2 separate regions of the Homo sapiens genome follow, and region 1 is linked to region 2. Evidence: fine-mapped expression QTL. A gene starts in region 2. The other region holds a variant in brackets. All regions are shown on one strand. Distances are from middle to middle. Region 1 overlaps SETX (senataxin). Region 2 holds the start of SETX (senataxin).

Region 1 (2,788 bases), 84 kb before region 2:
TGTGAGACACAGGTGGATTCTAGAATGACTCAGCATCCTCATGTGAGACACAGGTGGACTCTAGAATGACTCAGCGTGCCCGTGTGAGACACAGGTGGACTCTAGAATGACTCAGCATCCTCATGTGAGACACAGGTGGACTCTAGAATGACTCAGCGTGCCCGTGTGAGACACAGGTGGACTCTAGAATGACTCAGCATCCTCATGTGAGACACAGGTGGACTCTAGAATGACTCAGCGTGCCCGTGTGAGACACAGGTGGACTCTAGAATGACTCAGCATCCTCATGTGAGACACAGGTGGACTCTAGAATGACTCAGCGTGCCCATGTGAGACACAGGTGGACTCTACAATGACTCAGTATGCCCATGTGAGACACAGGTGGACTCTAGAATGACTCAGCGTGCCCATGTGAGACACAGGTAGACTCTAGAATGACTCAGCGTGCCCGTGTGAGACACAGGTGGACTCTAGACTCAGCATGCCCATGTGAGACACAGATGGACTCTAGAATGACTCAGCATGCCAGTGAGACACAGGTGAACTCTAGAATGACTCAGCATGCCCATGTGAGACACAGGTGGACTGCAGGCAGCTTTTCCGGGACTCCTTCACTCCTCTAGAAGTCACAGTGCTTTCTTACTCTCCGTCCCAATACAGGGTACCGGGCACAGAAGAATTCCTATTAAAAACAGGAAACAAACCAAAACCTCGGGGCTTCCTTCAAAGTGATGCATCTATCAATTTCCTATTTTTACCTGGATAAGATAATTGGAAATTTTAACAGTGCAATCTTGAAGCCTTGAAAAATCCTAAAAATGTGGTACCAGCCTAATCACTTTATTCTTACATTTAAATATATCTAGACTGTTAAGATATTGTAGAACTAGTGTAGAAATACATGAACACCAGATAAATATTTCAGTAGATCAGAAAAAGAGCTCAGAAATAGAATTGATGTATGATAAAAGTGAAATTTCAAATTAGCTGGGAAAGAAAGGTCTATTTATAAACTGACCCTGAGATACAACTGGGCTCTGTATATGCAGCCCATCCCAGGGAGGGGCAAAGATTACTTTAATTACTATTTTATTTGAAAACGAACTAATTTATAACCTGTAAATTCTGTCTGCTTCTCATGACAAGAAACAAATAATCATGTAAGAGTCTTGGGCTTGGGATATTTTCTGTCACTCATACAGGTGTCCTTAGCATCTTAAATAAACTGACAGTAGTTAAGGTGAACAAATTTAGCCAAAGCAGGAAAACACAGAAAACAATGACACTTTGACACATACCATGGGGAGTAATATGCCTCTGCAAAGTATAATCTAATTATTTATTTGAATCTTATTAAATAAAAGAACAGATTCACACTATGAAATGGGTTAATATAAAAGACACCAAGGCCGGGCGCAGTGACTCACGCCTGTAATCCCAGCATTTTGGGAGGCCAAAGTGGGTGGAGCACTTGAGCTCAGGAGTTTGAGACCAGCCTGGGCAAC[C/G]TGGCAAAACACTGTCTCTACAGAAAAATACAAAAATTAGCTGGGCGTGGTAGCACATGCCTGTAGTCCCAGCTACTCGGGAGGCTGATGCAGAAGAATCGCTTGAACCCAGGAGGTGGAGGATGCAGTGGGCCAAGATTGCACCAAGATCTAACAGTGGGTCTATTTCACAACTTAAAAGAGAAACTTTCATAGTATTACACAGGTTTTCACAAAAGAAAATTAAAAAAGCAAATGGTGTTCTCTAACAGTGATAATGAACCTAATCCTGAACTATAAACAAGCAACAATGTATACAAGTATAAAAGAGCAACAATGACAGTAACTCACCCAATTGAACCTTGGATGCTATTTGCTCTGACACACGTAACAATAACACAATCCTTCTGCCGACCCTGGAATGCATCCACAGTGTCTACTTCTGCTGGTCTATTTACAAAAGAGAAACATATTTACTGGAAAAAGGAAGATAATTATTAAGTATACATATTTATAAACTAGTTTTTTGGTTTTTTTTTTTTGAGACGGAGTCTCACTCTGTCGCCCAGGCTGGAGTGCAGTGGCGCGATCTCAGTTCACTGCAAGCTCTGCCTCCCGGGTTCACGCCATTCTCCTGCCTCAGCCTCCTGAGTAGCTGGGACTACAGGTGCCCGCCACCATGCCCAGCTAATTTTTTGTATTTTTAGTAGAGACTGGGTTTCACTGTGGTCTCCATCTCCTGACCTCATGATCCGCCCGCCTCGGCCTCCCAAAGTGCTGGGATTACAGGCGTGAGCCACCGCGTCCGGCTTAGTTTTTTGGTTTTTGACAGTCTAGCCTCACTCTTGTCCAGGCTGGAGTGCACCAGCATATTCATAGCTCACAGTAACTTGAACACCTGAGCTCCGTCTCAGCCTCCTAAGTGGCTAGGACTACAGGCATGGACCACCACCCTAATTTTTCCATGTTTTGTAGAGATGGGGTCTTGCCATGTTGCCCAGGCTGGTCTCAAACCCCTGGCCCCAAGCAATCCTTCCACCTCACCCACCCAAAATGTTAGGATTATAGATGTGAGCCACCATGCCTGGCCTTACAGTCTTTATTTTTAAAGAAACTTAAAAAAAAAAAGAGAGAGAGAGAGAGACAGAGTCTCACTGCGTTGCCCAGGCTGGACTCAAACTTCTGGGGCTCAAGCAATCCTCCTTGCCTCAGCCTCCCAAGGAGATGCATGCACCACCATGCTCGGCTGCTAAGACATTTTAAAAACATTTTCTTGGAGGTTAGCCTGAATTTCCTCCTCTCTC
Region 2 (2,788 bases):
CTAAAAAAAAAAATTATTACCTGGACAAATGGCCTACAGAAAAGTGATCGTCTCAGCTGGGCTTAGTTGTGAACAAACACGGATTTGCATTCATATATGCCCAGACTCTGGCCCCAAAAGAACATTTCTGAAATTAAAAAACAAAAAACGAAATTGGTAAGTGGCATTTATACTCTATATCCCATCTGAGCCTGGTATCGATCCTATTACAGACAGATACTGCTGGCTGATGAGGAAGCCCAGATAGGTTAGACAACTTGGCTGTGGACTTCCAGGAAACAGCAGAACTGCAATTCTGACTCCCAGTTCCACAAGGGGCTGTCCCCACTCACGGGGACAGCTAGGCACCGAGCCAAAAATCCCCCAAGTTATTAGCCCGCGCAGGTAACATCAATCCTAGGATCCTCAGCTGTGTCACTTATCAAATACCACACTCGGCCTTCTCCTTGTGGAGCTCTTTTCCCTCAAGGCAGTCACCCCCGTTTCACTTGGGTCGTGCAAATTGCTGGGCACATCCTTAGATCCCCAGAAGTTGGGGAGGACGGACAAAGTCCTGTGGCCAGCAGCAAAAGCTCCAGCCCCTCCAAGTGGGAGAAACAGACTCTCCTCCAAACGAAGGGACCGGCCGGGCGCGGCGGCTCGGAGGATCCCTGGAGCAGCTGAGCTCAGCCTGGGAAACACAGCCAGGCCCTGTCTCTGCAACACATTTTGTTTTTAATTAGCCGGGCGTGGTGACGCGCGCCTATGGTCCCAGTTACTCGGGGGGATGAGGCGGAAGGATCGCTGGAGCCCAGGAAGACGAGGTTGCTGCGAGCCGTGACTGTTCCACTGCACTTCAGCCTGGGTGACAGAGCGAGACCCCGTCTCAAAAAAAAAAAAAAAAGAAAAAAGAAAAAAAAACAAAGGGAGGGACTCCAGGCGAGAGGCAGACGAGCGTGTGGAGGGAACCGACACTTTCCACCCCGAGACCTCCCGCTCAGCCCCAAGGAAACTACGCAGTATCCACACCAAAAACAGCTCACACGAGACCGCAGTGTAGACAACGGAAGGACAGGGGGTCGCAGCGGCCGGGTCCAGCGCGCAGGAAGGCAACAGGCGGCCGCCAGCCGTCGAGGGGTGCTCCCGCCCCCGCACCGAGGGAAGCGGCCGAGCCCGCGCCGACTCTTCCCCCATCCGCCCACCGGGACCTAGGCGCCGCGATGGTTCCCCGAAGCGGCCCTGCAAGCACAAGCCGCGCCTGCGCTCACGCCCGCCCGACCTACGGCCTCCAGCCCGCCGCTACCCTCACCGCTCTCTGGCTGGCGTCGGCCTCTAGCCCACCTCCATACCGGGCCCCGCTCTAGGCCACCAGCGGAAGTGCGGGCCCGCAGCCGCAGCTACCAACCAGCTGTTGCCGCGAGGTAGGCCCCGCCCCCGCGCTGAGTCGGCCGGCCGCAGGCCCCGCCCCGGCCGCTGCTTTCTGGTTTTGGTGCCCCCCAGGGGGCGGGGCATGGGAAGAGCGGCCGCGGTGCACCGCCCACGCCGGGCGCTGGCGTCACGTCCGGGCAGCTGGGGCCCGACCAATCCCGAGTCCCCGTCAGGGTGGACGGGGAGAGTTTGCCGCGGAACCTTGACCTCGGCCCCGCCCGGGGCTTCCTGCGGGTGGGGCGGCTCCGGGATGAGCTCTGCTGCGGGTGGGGTCAGCCCTTACCCGCTGGCCATTTCCGTTCCCTCTTTTTTCTTCTTTTTTCCACGCCTCAGGTGTCTCAGCGGATGTACTACGGTGACGAAGTAATTTTTCTCTTTAGATTTCCTTTAAAGACCTGAAATGTAAATTACATAAACGTGTAATTTCGGAGGAATATGTGTATATCCTTTATATTACAAGAAAGGGAGACCTTAGGTCTTGCGAACAATGCGCGCGATGCGCAACACAGCAGAGTAAATCCCTCGCTGGTGCGGTGGCTCCCGCTTCTAATCCCACCACTTTGGGAGGCCCAGGCGGGAGGCTCGCTTGAGCCCGGAGTTCAGAGACCAGCCTGTGCAACATAGCGAGACACCCGTATGTACAAAAAAAAATTAAAACTCAGCCACCGAGGCCGGGCGCGGTGGCTCACGCCTGTAATCCCAGCACTTTGGGAGGCCGAGGCGGGTGGATCACCTGAGGTCAGGAGTTCGAGACCAGCCTGACCAACATGGTGAAACTCCGTCTCTACTAAAAATAAAAAGATTACCTGGGCGTGGTGGCGGGTGCCTGTAATCCCAGCTACTCAGGAGGCTGAGGCATGAGAATGGCTTGAACCCGGGAGGCAGAGGTTGCAGTGAGCCGAGATCGCACCACTGCACTCCAGCCTGGGCAAAGGAGCGAGACTCTCTCTCCGGAAAAAAAAAAAAAAAAAAAAAAATTAGCACCTGTGGGCCCAGCTTGTTGGGAGGCTGAGGCAGGGGGTGGATATCCATTGAGACCGGGAGATCGAGACTGCAGTGAGCCGTGACTGTGCCACTACACTCCAGGCTGGGGAACAAAGCAAGACCCTGTCTCAGAAAAGTCTATAAATAAATAAAAATGAGTAAAATCCACTGGAAAGCCTATCCCCCCCCTTTTTTGTTTTTGAGATGGAGTCGCGCTCTGTCACCCAAGCTGAAGTGCAGTGGCGCAGTCTCGGCTCACTGCAACCTCCGCCTCCTGGGTTCAAATGATTCTCCTGCATCAGCCTCCCGAGTAGCTGGGAGTACAGGCGTGTGCCACACGCCCGGCTAATGTTCATGTTTTTAGTAGAGATGGGGTTTCACCATGTTGGCCAGGATG

The links. PIP is the estimated chance that this variant, and not a neighbour inherited with it, causes the effect. A credible set is the group of variants that fine-mapping cannot tell apart.
Region 1: its variant is the best candidate, but not a certain one, in a credible set for the expression of SETX in whole blood (TOPMed, PIP 0.85).

What each region holds. Positions count from the first base shown.
Region 1 is chr9:132,269,875-132,272,662 of GRCh38, forward strand. It overlaps SETX (senataxin), which reads right to left. Exons shown (of 26, transcript NM_015046.7): 24 at 1,836-1,934. Among named protein-coding and RNA genes, the nearest start is that of SETX, 84 kb to the right of the region's middle. RefSeq lists enhancers at 1-677, 1-781 and a silencer at 1-56. The variant C/G (reference allele first, on the strand shown) is at 1,506.
Region 2 is chr9:132,353,629-132,356,416 of GRCh38, forward strand. It overlaps SETX (senataxin), which reads right to left and starts at 1,358. Exons shown (of 26, transcript NM_015046.7): 1 at 1,289-1,358; 2 at 21-127. RefSeq lists enhancers at 622-1,123, 943-2,142, 1,124-1,623 and silencers at 1,008-1,217, 1,268-1,657.